Linked DNA regions of Homo sapiens. The protein of the gene in region 2 purifies or fractionates together with the protein of the main gene of each other region. This does not show direct contact. Each region holds a gene or a part of one and is shown on either strand. Other genes may lie near its edges.

Region 1 (3,500 bases), on a different chromosome or scaffold from region 2:
TGCGGGTTTTCCCTCTATCTTGGGTCACACCCCCTGGGGAAGGGAGCCAGCTGTCATGCTGTGAAGACACACAACCAGCCCTCTGGAGAGCCTCTGTGGTGAGGAGCTGAGGCCTCCAGCCCACAGCCATGTGACGGAACCATCCTGGAAGGGGCTCCTGCAGCCTCCGCTGGCATCCTGACTGCAACCTCAGGAGATAGCTGAGCCACAACCGCCCTGCCAAGCTGTTGCAGGATTTCTGACCCACGACCAAACTGAGAGGTAATGTTTATTGTTTTAAGCCACTGGGTTTTGAGATAATCTGTTACACAGCAAGAGAAAATGAATGTAGTATCACCTATACTTAAGCAACACAGGTGTGAACTGTGTGGGTCCACTGATAGCTGGATTTTCTTCCACCTCTGCCACCCCTGAGGGAGTAAGACCAGCCCCTCCTGTCCCTCCTCCTCCTAGGCCCACTCATCGTGAAAACGACGAGGATGAAGACCTTTATGATGATATACTTCCCCTTAATGAATAGTACATATATTTTCTCTTCCTTATGATTTTCTTAATAACATTTTCTTTTCTTTAGCTTACTTTATTGTAAGAATATGGTAATACATATACAAAATATGCGTTAATTGCCTGTTTATCAGTAAGGCTTCTGGTTAACACCAGGCTATTAGTAATTTGGGTTTTCGGGAATCAAAAGTGATGTACAGATCTCTGATTGCATGGGGGTGAGCACCCCTAGGCCCCACACTGTTCAGGGGTCAGCGGTACATGTCTCTCCTCAATCTACCAGTGTTTTCGTTTGCTTGCTCCTCCTGGAAGTCTCTCTTCCGGTCCCAGGTCTAGTTCTCTCGACACCTACTTTCTCATCTATTGGCGTTTCCCTTTACCTCCATCCTAGGAACTCTCTTTCAATCTCTGAGTCAAATGCCTCATTTCCTGGCTACCATGTTTCACTCTCTGCTGGCATAGTGGCTTCCTAAGAAAGAATATAAGGGAGGTACATTTTTTACCATTAGTCTACAAATATCCTCCTTCCATAGTCTTATGACTGATAGGCTCTATAGGTTATTTTAGGTTGGAAATTATTTTCCCTCAAAAATGGAAGAAGCTGCTCCATTGCTGGCCCCCGCGCACTGCACTGGAGGCTCCCGAAATCACCCAGACTCCTGATCTGTCCACGTTTCCCCTCCAGTGAGCTTGTCTTTGAGAGAAAACAGTTTTCTCTACCAGCATTGTGAATGTTCCCAGTTGCCTTATCATGGCTCTCCTTACATTTCTTTTCAACCTGAGGGCACATGGCCTTCAGTTGCAAAGCTATTTTCTTTCATAATGTTCTTGCCTTCATTTTCTCTGTTCCCAAGATCCTATTTAATGTTAGACCTCTTGGATAAATCTTTTAACTTGAAAACAAGACAAAAACCCCAAACTTTTCTCCACTAACTTTTGTATCTTTGAGTTTTGTTGTACTTCTCAAGACAGTTTCTCAGTGCTGCCTTCGAACACTTCTGACTTTTAAAAAATCTCTGCTGCTGTCCTTCTCAGAACTGCTCCCTTCCTTCCTCACCCTGGCACATGCCATCCGCCTCTTTCCTCAGCCAGCCACACAGTCATCTCCCTGGTCACCCTCAGATTCAACCCTTTACTATTTAAAATGCACAGCTGATCACTTCACCTGCATCTAAACTTCACCACATGGCACACCAACAAGGTCTTGGAAGACACACCAGCCCTGGCTCCTGCCCCAACCCCTGCCTCGTGGATCCCACTGAGGCACCCTCCTTTGCACCCTCCTGTCAGTTTCACCAATCACATGCCTTTGGCTGTGCTGCACTATTTGGAAAATCCTCCCCCCTAATTCTCACTCCTACTCATCCTATAAGCAGTTCAGGAATCACCTCTCCCAGCAGACTTTTCTTAACACATCACCCCACAACACGATGGGTGAAGGTCCTTTCTCAGGCTCTCACAACAGCCTGCATTTGCCACCCCACCTCTGCTTAGCCGTGTGGCTGCCTCTCGCACTGCTCTTCCGTTTTCTCCGTCTCTGTGATTTCGCACATATTCCCTAAGTCTTGCAGCATGCTTGGCACATAGCAGGGATTTAAGCACTAGGGATGTTTATAGTGAAGCACATTCAAGATATATTAGAGGCATATTTAAACTCGGTTTTTATAAAAAAAATTTTTTGACTCAGTTTTGTTTTGGGGAATGCAAGAAAAAGTATTTCTTTTCTTTAAAGGCCACCATGCATGATAATACATAATTAAATTAACTCCAGTTTCACAATTGGGCTGGAAGAATTTGAGGTTCTAGAGATTCCAGGATTTTCTAACAGTTACCTTTGGAGAAAGAGAAATGACTGAGATGCATACAAATTAATAGTCCCTCTCCCAGGACACCAAAACCCTGAACTTATTTCCATTGCCCCAATTATACACATATAATTAGTGCCCCCTGGAATTTCCAAGCTGAAAAAAATAAAAAGTCCACCATCTTCATCTAACAGCTGAGAAAACTGATGCCCAGAAAAGTGCTGTGCCTCAGGTCACACAGAATGTTAATCAAAATGCCCGTCACACATTCAGAACACGTGCAGGTGCAGCTCAGTGAATGCAGCTAAGTGAACACAGTTACATCTACATAAGAAAGAAGCATCTTCAGACACAGTCATCCTTCCTCCAGGCACAATCTCACCCTTTTCCAGGTGGCCAGCAGTTGCTTATCAGACATCTGCTCTGGATAATCCGCAATTGCAAACACACATCCCAATAAGAAGCCTTCTTCTGGAACTAGAGTAAAATTACATAAGAAAAAGAAAATTAAAACCCTATGAATATGCTTGCACAAAAGTTAAAAAGTGGCGCCTCACAATGTCAATCTGTTATGTTTATCAGTCTTGACCATGACGTATCTGCCAGTAATCAGAGTGCATAGGGAATATTGCTACGAAGATACTATTTAACTGTCTACATCAAATGATCATTAAAAACTAAAACCAAGGTAACTCATGCCTGGCCATTAAATACCCTGAATGAGTCCCTGTGGCAGCCTAGATGTTCTACGGGACACCAATATTCACTTCAGGATATGATGTCCCAAAGTACAAAAGAAAGCATAATTATCCCATGGTAACTATATTCTTTGTTAGGTATGAGACTCACACTCTCCATTTTGTAGTAATTGTTTTGATATGAATCCTCACCCCACACTCAAACACTCTCAAAGCATTTATGTGGGTACAAGACTTTTAGGAGAGAGGAAAAATAATCTCCATTACTAACTCTCCACTGCTGGATCATGTCCAAAAAGCTGATGCTGCTGAGGCGATGGTGGTGGCTGCTGTTGCTGCTGCTGCTGCGGGGGCTGCTGAGGTGGAACCTGATGCTGCAGCGCCTGTGACGTCTGACTCAAGTGTGGCGCTGTCTGACTTTGCATCTGCTGCTGCTGCTGCTGCTGGTGCATGCGCTGGAGCTGCTGCTGCTGAATCTGCTGTTGCTGCTGCT
Region 2 (2,601 bases):
CCAGGCCTGCTCAGTGACCCTTTCTCTAGGGGGACATCAGGGCAGTGCCCCACAACCCACACACACCACCATCTCACTGGGTCTAGTCTCATCTCAGACAACCCCCACCCCCACTGTTTCTGGGGTTCCCTTTCTCATCTCTCCCACCCTGTCTCCTGCCTCTGTCTTTCTTGGTGTCTGTCTGGGCTTCTTTCTGTCTCTTTCTGTCTTTCTGTCTCTCTCCCTACCCCCGCTCCCTCTTTCCAGTGCTCTGGCTGGCTGTCTCTCCCTTTCTCCCCCTCTCTCTCTGCCTTAGGCTCTGTCTCCACCGCAGGGCCCAAGGTGAAAGTCCTCCCCTTGCCGGAGGCCAGCTGGCAGGGCCTTTCGTGGCTGGAAGTGGCCAGTTTGGTTCCGGTGCTGACCCCTAGGCCCCAGCGCAGCTGCCTCCCGTGCTGTCTGTCTCCCCCTCTCTGTTTATGTCTGCGCTGTGTCTCACACTCAGAGCCTCCTTGCTTCTGTTAGGTTCCCATCTCTCCTTCTGCCTCACTCTGGGCCTCTTCTTTCTACTTGTACATTTCCACCTCTCTAGGCCTCTGCTCTCACTGTCCCTCTCTGTCTGTCTCTCAGCCTTTATCTCTGGGTTTTGATCCCCCACTCCAGGCTCTGGGCCCCTTCTTCCCCCTTCCCTCAAACCTGGCTGCTATAGGCAGCAGAACCCTGACCACTGAGTAATACAGCCCCAGGGGAGGGAGGAGACCCCAGGCAGGGAGGATGGGGGCAGCTCTCTTCTCTCCCCAGGACCCAGGCTGTGGATCACGGGGCCTGCCAGCTTGAGTGTAGAGGGAGGGGGGACTCTACCCTTCTCAGCCCCACCAGCCCCCCTCTGCCCAACCACAATTTTCCCTTCCTCCGCCTTCCTCTCCCTCTCCTGTTTACACTCCCCAAATGCGCACAGGCTGTTATCATGGGTCCTGAGTCATCCCACACACAGCCTGCCCCAGCGTCCCTGCCCCCAGCTGGCCGCAGGGCCCGCCCCATGGAGCCCCCTGCCGCCCTGGGCTAATGGGAGCCAGATGGCCGCCTGGTGACTCAGCCACCGGGCCTGTGGGAACCCAGGCGTCCCGCCTTCCCATGCCCCCACACCCGGCTCCTGCTCCCCCAGCAGACACACACAGGAGGGCCTGGCCACTGTTGAGGGGGCACACAGGGCAAGGGTCACCAAGTCGGGGCCTAGGGACTCCTCATGCCTCTGAGATGGAATGGTGGTATCCTGCCGTGGCCAAGCCTGAAGGACCCTCAAAACTGCCTCCTGGAGTCCACGGTTCCTGACCTCCGAGCCTCAGCTATGCCCTCTGGGTCAACCAGAATTAGAGCCAGACAGGGAAAGTGAGAGCTGGATGGAGGCAGACAAGATGCTCAGAGCGACTATTAAAGAACGAAAGCCTCTGCTACGGAGCGCTTCTGTCCTCTGTCAGGCCCGAGCGAAGTGCCTGACACCGGGTTGGATCCTCAGATGGCCCCATGAACTAGTGAAGTGGGTCAAAGGAGGCCTGGAAAGATGTTGCTTCCTCAAGGCCACTCGGCCATCAGAGGCAGAAATGAAACAGGAACCCAGGCCTAGAATCACAAAGGTCCTAGAAACCACTTGGCTGTCTGGCCTCTCAGGTGTCAGGGCCATCCAGAGTGAGACAGCATTGGAGGGACAAGTGTGCATGCAGATGTCCTCAGACGGGAAGGTTTGAGAAGGGTCAGATGGTAGGCGGGCCTAACAAGGGCTCCGTGCTAGCCACTGTCCCGCACACAGACAGGATCAGGTCATCTTGATATGGAGATCAGTCCCCAAATCACTGAATTGTCCCAGCAGTGCTATGCCCTAGGTACTACCAATATCACTCCTCTATTTCCCAGAGGAGGAAGCAGCAGCTAGACTCCAGGACCTTGGGGTCATATCTCTCAGAAAGCCAAGAGTGCAGGATGAGAGCTGTCTGTCTCTTACCTGCCTGTATTTGTGCCCCATTTTTAAAGAGCAGAGGGCCTGGGCCACAGGAAAGGTATCAGCCCTTGGTGATAGGCACATTTTTTACCAGTCTATCATTTGGTCATTAAATTTGTTTACAATATACTTTGCTATACGTAAATTTGTTGTGTAGGTTTTTAAAAAGCGATGAGAGACACAGAAATTGAGTCAGAATTAGGGTTAGTCAGATGGTCAAGACGTGAGCATCTAGCTGACAGACAGAGGTGGAGCCAGTCCCAGGGACAGGGATTAGATGGGGAGACAGGAAGAGAGGTGGAGACAGAGTGGGGTAGGGATGACGGGAGACACACCCCCTGGTCACTGCCTCTGAGACCTGGGGGTGGTGGGCCCCAGGGCGGGTGCCTCCCATCCCCCTCCCAGTTCTCCCGGGGTCGGGGTAGGTGGAAAGGCTGAGTCAGGGAGGGCGGGCCCCGCTGGGAGACAACCCCTAGGTGGGCATCCGGCCCCCACCCCCGTGTCTCCTGTCCGTCCTGGCCCTGGCCTGGCTCGCTGGCCTGGCCGCCACCCCGCCCCCCACGTCTGACACCTCCATGCGTCCTGCCAAAGCAAGCTGCCTCCCTGCACTCTTCCCCCTCCAGCTCCAG
Region 3 (3,500 bases), on a different chromosome or scaffold from region 2:
AATAATTGTATGTTAAATAATTGTATTGAAAGTGCTTTGTAAAACATAAAATGCTTTGGAAATATAAGTGTTGCTATGTGGTCTGAAGTGGTACTCATAGTTAGTGGGCTAGAGCCACTGGAGGAGGTCTTCATGAAGAACGGAGCATTTTAACTTGGTCTTAGAGGAGGAGCCTTTGAATAGATGAAGAGGAGTAGGAAGGCAATCTTAGATATGTGATATGGTTTGGCTCTGTGTCCCCACCCAAATCTCACCTTGAATTGTAATAATCCCCGTGTCAAGGATGGGACCAGGTGGAGATAATTGAATTATGGCGGCAGTTTCTGCCATGCTGGTCTCATGACACTGAGTTCTCACGAGATCTTATGGATTTATAAGGGGCTTCCCTGTTTGCTCAGCGCTCATTTCTCTCTCGTGCCTCCATGTGAAGAAGGATGTGTTTGCTTCCCCTTCTGCCATCCTTGTAAGTTTCCTGAGGCCTCCCCAGCCCTGTGGTACTGAGTCAATTAAACCTCTTTCCTTTATAAATTTCCTAGTCTTGGGCAGTTCTTTATTGCAGCGTGAGAGTGAACTAATACAGATGTGTGTGTGTGTATGTGTAGCAGGGGATCCATACTAACAAAGGCATGATATGTGGGTAGGGACTATAAAAACCCTGCTGAGTGGAGCACAGGTATGTGTAGGGAGTGGTAGAAAAAAGATTGGACAAACAGTCCAACCTTTTCCTTCTAATGCTGGAGGAAAGACATTTGCTACTATTAAGTCTTGCAGAATTTATTACTGCTACCTTTGTTAGAAAATTGTGAGTGGAAGGATTGTTATGAAGGAATACATCAATAAATTAATTTCCAAAGTTTTTCCTGTCACATCTACAATAACATTTGGAAATATTGTTTAGAGAGGCTTGAAATCACCCACAATATGCCTAAAGAAGTGCAAGTACTTTCTTTTTAGGTGATATAGTTACTGCTTTTAGAGGTTATATCATTAAAGCTTAGTAGATGATGGCACCACAGTACTAAATTTATTTAATGTTGTATATACTTTTATTATTATTATAAATAATCAGAAATGGGTGTTAAATTATACTAAGTATTGTTTAGTGGCATGTACTTTTTTCTCCCTTATCTGTTACATATGAACCCATTTCTAAGTTTTTCTGAGCATACACTACATGATCATGTGGATTTTGTACTTTAGTAAGTTGCTGGACTTAATTTGCTAATCCTTTATTTTGGATTTTTACATATATTTCATGGACTAGAAAGTAGTCCAAAAAACTGTTGAACTGAAAGTACATGACTGCTCCTCCTGAAAGCAGTCTAAGAGTAGAATGGTGTTTGCCCGGGGGTGGAGGAGGGGGCAATGAGGAGTTATTGTTTAATGGGTATGGAGTTTCAGTTTGGGAAGATGAAAAAGTTCTGGAGATGAATGGTGGTGGTGGTTGCACACAAAGGTGAATGAACTATATGTACTTAATGCTACTTAATGCCTCTGAACTGTACACTTAAATGGTTAAGATGGTAAATTTTATATTTTACTACAATAAAAATTTTTTTTTGAAAGTCCAAAAAAGCATATTGAAAATATGGCATTGATATAACTTTAACAACCACAGATATCGGGAGGCAATTCAGAAGTGGGATGAAGCACTACAGTTAACTCCAAATGATGCTACCCTATACGAGATGAAATCACAGGTAATAATTATGAAGAATTTCACTTTCCTTATGAAATTGTGCTATGTTTGTTCGGTGAGTGAGCAATGATGAAGCAAAATAGCATTTTCTCCCATTTTCTTTTACAAATACGGTTTCTTTGGGAAAAAATATTTCACCATTATTTATGGTTCTGTCTTATGCATAAAACTGGAAATTCATTTGCCTTTACAATGAAGTTAACTGTTATTTTAGCCTAACTATTGTAAGATAGGAATCGGTGGCTATCTTTTAAAGTCACTGGTGGGCAGGTGCCATGGCTCACGTCTGTAATCCCAGCAATTTGGGAGGCCGAGGTGGGTGGATCACTTGAGGTCAGAAGTTCGAGACCACCCTGACCAACATGGTGAAACCTTGCCTCTACTAAAAATACAAATATTAGCTGGGCGTGGTGGCACATGCCTGTAGTCCCAGCTACTTGAGAGGCTGAGGCAGGAGGACCACTTGAACGTGGGAGGCGGAGGTTGCAGTGAGCTGAGATAGTGCCACTGCACTCCAGCCTGGGTGACACAGCGAGACTCCATCTCAAAAAAATAAATAAGTAAATAAAAAATAAATAAAAAGTCACTGTTGAGCTCTTAGATGAAAAACATACGCTTTCCTTGTGATTAAATATAGTAGACTTAGCAAAATAGTTCAGTTTTCTTAAAAATGAGGATGGATTGGGTTCTAGATGAGATATTTCTAAAAATGGCTTAGTCCTTAGCAAAAGGTCAGCATAGATGCAATTTTATTAATAGCTTAAAAATAACATTTGTACTTTAAAAACATGTTTCTAATATTTTGTAGGAAAGTCTGTAAAGAAAACCTTTGAGCACTTGAATAGGTTATCCAAGTGATTTTAAAAGTCTCACACAGAGCATTAAACATATTTTTGGCAGGGAATTGTTGCAATTCAGCCTTAATCTGCACACCTAACAAATATTTTTCAAATCGTGATCTCAAATATAGGACACACATTTGTCACCTTTGACTTTAGTTTATCCAGGAAAAACCCAAATAAATTATGTCATCTGAATCAAGTGATATGAGGACCTTCATTTGTATTCCTTTTTCAATCTTAAATATGTATATATGAATGACAGGTTTGTGGCAAGCTTTATGAAGACTTGTTTAATTTGGAACCTGATAATAATGTTTGTATCACAAATCTTTTAAAGTGTTAATGGTCCTAAAGATTATAGATAAAATCCAGCCTCTTCCCACAGACCACAGTGGAGGGTACTAGAACTCTCTGGTAACCCTAACTCTCCCTAACCCTAACCCTAACCCTAACCCTACCTTCCTAGTATGTATGGTTTGAAATGCCCAGTAGTGAGAAGGCCTAGGGAATGTTTTAAATACTTTTTATAACATAAAGATGTTCATTAGGGACGGGATGGCTGGTTGAACAAATTAATTCACCTAGTTTAATGGCAATACCTGGGGTTCCCTGAAAACCACATTGTAAATAGAATAAATGGAAGTGGAATTGGGAGTTCAAAATACCTCTGAGCCACCATAGTTAGGATATGACCACTTGGTTTTGACCAGATGGACATAAGATTCAATAACTGGAAAGGGAATCGTTTACATTTTCATAGTTATATAAGGGGTGAAAAGAGAACTATAATTTCTTACCCTGAATGGCAGAGTAAGGGGTAAAAATCACCGAAATGCTATTTTTACTGGACTAAAAATATATCTTAAAAAATGAAAAGGGTTTTTTATGTAGTTGCTAGTTTATGAATATTACTGACAGATTTTTTGGTCTTTTTTTGCCTATAGGTGCTAATGTCTCTT
Region 4 (3,500 bases), on a different chromosome or scaffold from region 2:
AATGTAAAGTTATGATTCAATTCCAAAACTCCCCACTGATAGGAGCCAAATTAAAGCTAAGGGAAATTTTATGTATAAGACTAATTACTAGGTGGACAAATGTTATACATCCAGAAACTTGTGTGAATTAAGTCAAAAGCAACTTGACTTTAGCATTTAAGATAGAGGAAAATTGTTTAGCAAGTTTAAAAACAAAGGATTCATCCTAATGGTGAGTGAAGACTTTCGGCAAAACGCACACTCAAAATTTTGTTTAGAAATAAGCTGAGCCACATACATGTAAAGCTACCACTAGATATGTGCTTTTTTTGAATGCTACAAAAATACTATCCTGTGAATGCTTTTATCAGTGGTGAAAAACCCACTATAGTTTTAAACAGGCTTGTAACTGATAAATCTATTTTTAGAAAATTAAAAGTTTATAAGTATTTTTAAAATGTTTCATGATTATTTAAAATCAAAATCTGACAATTAATTGTTATTAACTTGATGTCAAGATTACTAAAGAACTGTAATCACATTCTTCTTCCTTAAGGATTGTGTTTATTTTAAAAATGGTGACTTTTCTATTAGAATAAAACAGTGTAGTACAAAAAGATGATATATTTAAAGTGCATTATTTAATTTTAAAATGGTAATTATCTTATTCTGGGCAACAATAACCAAAAAAAAAACAAAAACAAAAAATTGTCTCTCAGTTATAATAAAACCACATTTATTGGAGTCGATCGTACCAATGTCTGGTCAAAAACTGTATACTTTCCCAATCCATCCCATGATGTTTTCCTGGTCCCCCGCTGCCGCAGACAGTTCAGCTGGTGTTGCTCACCAAGGCCAATGTCAAAGAGAATTTGGTATTCTTTTGTGTTCATTTATTATTCAACCAGTGTTGTGTTCCTGTGTTTGGGAAAAGGCTTAGCTTGACTGAGCAAGAGCATACCTACAGCATGAATTCTTCTGCTTTAATAGTGTGTTGAAAGAGAAAAAAAGGAAGAAAGGAAAATAAAAGAATTCCAAATACCTTTGTTACCATGAAAAGAAAGTTTCTAGTATGTCCAGTGTTCATGACAATAATAGGAATTTCTTCTTAAAATCAATTGAAAAAACAAAAAACAAAGCTATGCCTTCAGTAAGGAGAACTCAAACCAAGGTTATATATTAAATGCAGATAATTCAGAAAACAAGAAAAAAATAACAACAGATTGGGTCAAACTGTAACGTTATCTGAAATTTACGACACACTTAAAACATCTATTTTCCCATGACAATAGTCTATTGTCTGACTCCAAATCAGAGCTAATAAATACACTCTAACTAGTCAAACTATAAACATTCCCTACAGTGATAACAATAAAAACAAAAAAAGATACTGACATAAAATTGCAAAGTATACAAAAGTTAGTTAAATTTCACACATCCCCCCGCAAAAAGTACTGGGAAGGAACCATTGCTCAGTCAAGATACTACCTTTTCCTCAACACCATTTCTTTTTAAATTCAGAAGGGGATATTGTCTATATTTAGATCAGTAATAATAAAGAAAAACATGTACCTTTCTGTTGGGATAACCACTTTGACTATGGCTTGCGACAGAGTCTGTATATGAAGTCACATCAGATAATAAACATAGAATATGTGAGTATTGTTAACAAGTAACAAGCAAAAATATACATATGCATTGAAAATACTACATATCTAATCACAAGTTTTGCAGGCAATCACTGCATTTGAAGTCATTATACACTAAGCAATTACATAAATGCAAATGGATGTGTTCAGTGAACAATAAACGTTCACCAAATGCAAAGAATCAGAACATTCCTGCCAGAATGCACATCAATGCACTGAAATAGGTACTACACTGAGAATTATCAGATAAAGATTTTAATTTGTGAAATAATTAACTGTTTGCCTCTGACCATACAGTTCGCTACTTTGTTCCCAAGCCTTTAAAACCAGCCCTGTCATTTTAAGTGTAATTAATTCATAATAGAACCAACGAATTCTTATAACTTGAAATTAAGTTGGTTTTATTTACTAAAAAGAAAATACTCACCCTTTGCTTTTACTAGATTAACTATTTTTTACAAACCACATAAATCTTCTCAAATATTCTAATACCTCAGATCTAGCTGCCATCCAAACAATAACTACTTAGGAGGTCTTTCTAATTGAAATGTCACTTAACCAAATACAAAGTATCACTTTCTCAGAACAAAGTAAATTTAGTTAATACACTTAAGCAAATCTGGATACAACACTGGACAAAGGAAAAAAAACTTAACAAGTGGTCAAAAAAGGAATGGTAGCCACAAATAAAAATATGACCTAGTATTTCAAATATAGGGTTTCCATGGGCTAAGGCAGGGAACACATCTACTTATTTCTTTAAAAGTTGCCAAACAGAATTACACACACATTTTCTATAAAATTGTTGAAAAGAAATACTACCACAGCTTTAGTATTTACAAATTAGATGCGGCCTTATGTCCATTTTTTAAATTACCTTCTCAAAATCCTCTTTGTTTTTAGGTGGCGGTAACATAGGAGCATTAGGGTTTTTTAACCGCTCTCTAGGCTGCGCATTAAAAGGCAGTCCGGATGGAGGTGGGGGAAGCGTATGTTCCATCATAGAAGGCGGAATGTATATTGGATGTGGAGGAATAGGTACAGCTTTACCCCAACCTAACTTCATTTCAAAAGACATAATCATTTTTCCTACAAGAAAGAAATGAAAGGTCATTTTGTTAACTCTCAAAAGTTTCCAAACAAAATTTTTCTGGTGAGTTGAAATAATTTTCATTTTAACCTCTCCATTTCAGGTCCAATCCTTCCTAGTTTTTATAAATACTTTTCCAAACCAAAGAAATATCTGAATTGTATAAATGGATAATAAAAATGTTCTTACCATTCAAATTTTTTAAAGCTCTTTCAGCATCTCTTCTATTCATAAAGGCCACAAAGCCGCAATTTCTCTCTCTGGCTCTTTCTTCATCAGTTCTAGGCCACATGATTTTCACACTGGCTAACGGTCCAAATCTTCCAAATTCTTGGCACAGCATTTCTTCATTCATCTATTAAAAAGGGTAAAAGATTTTTATTATGCAAAAAAGGGAAAAGAAAAAATTATTTTCAGAAAACAAAGTAGTTTTTACAAAATAAAAAGCAACATAGCAACGTGCTTCAATTTTCCATTTAAGTACCAGGAACGCCACACAAGTAAAATCCCGCGTGGGGCATTCATAAATCATTTCATACTATAAATATTCTGGTTTATTTAAGATGCCAGGGTGGGGAAGTTCAGTGGATGAAGAAATCAAAATCATTTTTACTCTCTATCTTCCTTTGTTTTAAGGTCCTGGATCTAAGTAAGATGTTTTATAGTGATGGTTTGTTTAGGCATTTAGTAACATTTTTCAAGCAGGCATGGTTAGTACATTTAAATTAAAGAGGAAATATGTATTGACAATGAAGAAAAAAAGTATCTAATCATCTGTTCTA

Evidence for each region. The genes of interacting proteins can lie anywhere in the genome.
Region 1: the proteins of CCDC97 (region 2) and PAXIP1 purify together in Homo sapiens (affinity purification with mass spectrometry; 2 studies listed by BioGRID and IntAct, with this or other methods). This does not show direct contact.
Region 3: the proteins of CCDC97 (region 2) and TTC33 purify together in Homo sapiens (affinity purification with mass spectrometry; 2 studies listed by BioGRID and IntAct, with this or other methods). This does not show direct contact.
Region 4: the proteins of CCDC97 (region 2) and U2SURP purify together in Homo sapiens (affinity purification with mass spectrometry; one large-scale study listed by BioGRID and IntAct). This does not show direct contact.

Annotation. Positions count from the first base shown.
Region 1 is NC_000007.14:154,965,125-154,968,624, forward strand, and holds part of PAXIP1 (PAX-interacting protein 1), read right to left. Parts: coding exon 3,279-3,500; intron 2,787-3,278; coding exon 2,692-2,786; intron 1-2,691.
Region 2 is NC_000019.10:41,322,773-41,325,373, forward strand, and holds the end of CCDC97 (coiled-coil domain-containing protein 97), read left to right. Parts: 3' UTR 1-2,101; downstream 2,102-2,601. UniProt on the Homo sapiens protein: May play a role pre-mRNA splicing through the association with the splicing factor SF3B complex which is involved in branch-site recognition.
Region 3 is NC_000005.10:40,728,462-40,731,961, reverse strand, and holds part of TTC33 (tetratricopeptide repeat protein 33), read left to right. Parts: intron 1-1,618; coding exon 1,619-1,700; intron 1,701-3,485; coding exon 3,486-3,500.
Region 4 is NC_000003.12:143,022,070-143,025,569, reverse strand, and holds part of U2SURP (U2 snRNP-associated SURP motif-containing protein), read right to left. Parts: intron 3,074-3,500; coding exon 2,908-3,073; intron 2,718-2,907; coding exon 2,506-2,717; intron 1,596-2,505; coding exon 1,552-1,595; intron 1,087-1,551; exon of another isoform or gene 1,022-1,086; intron 1-1,021.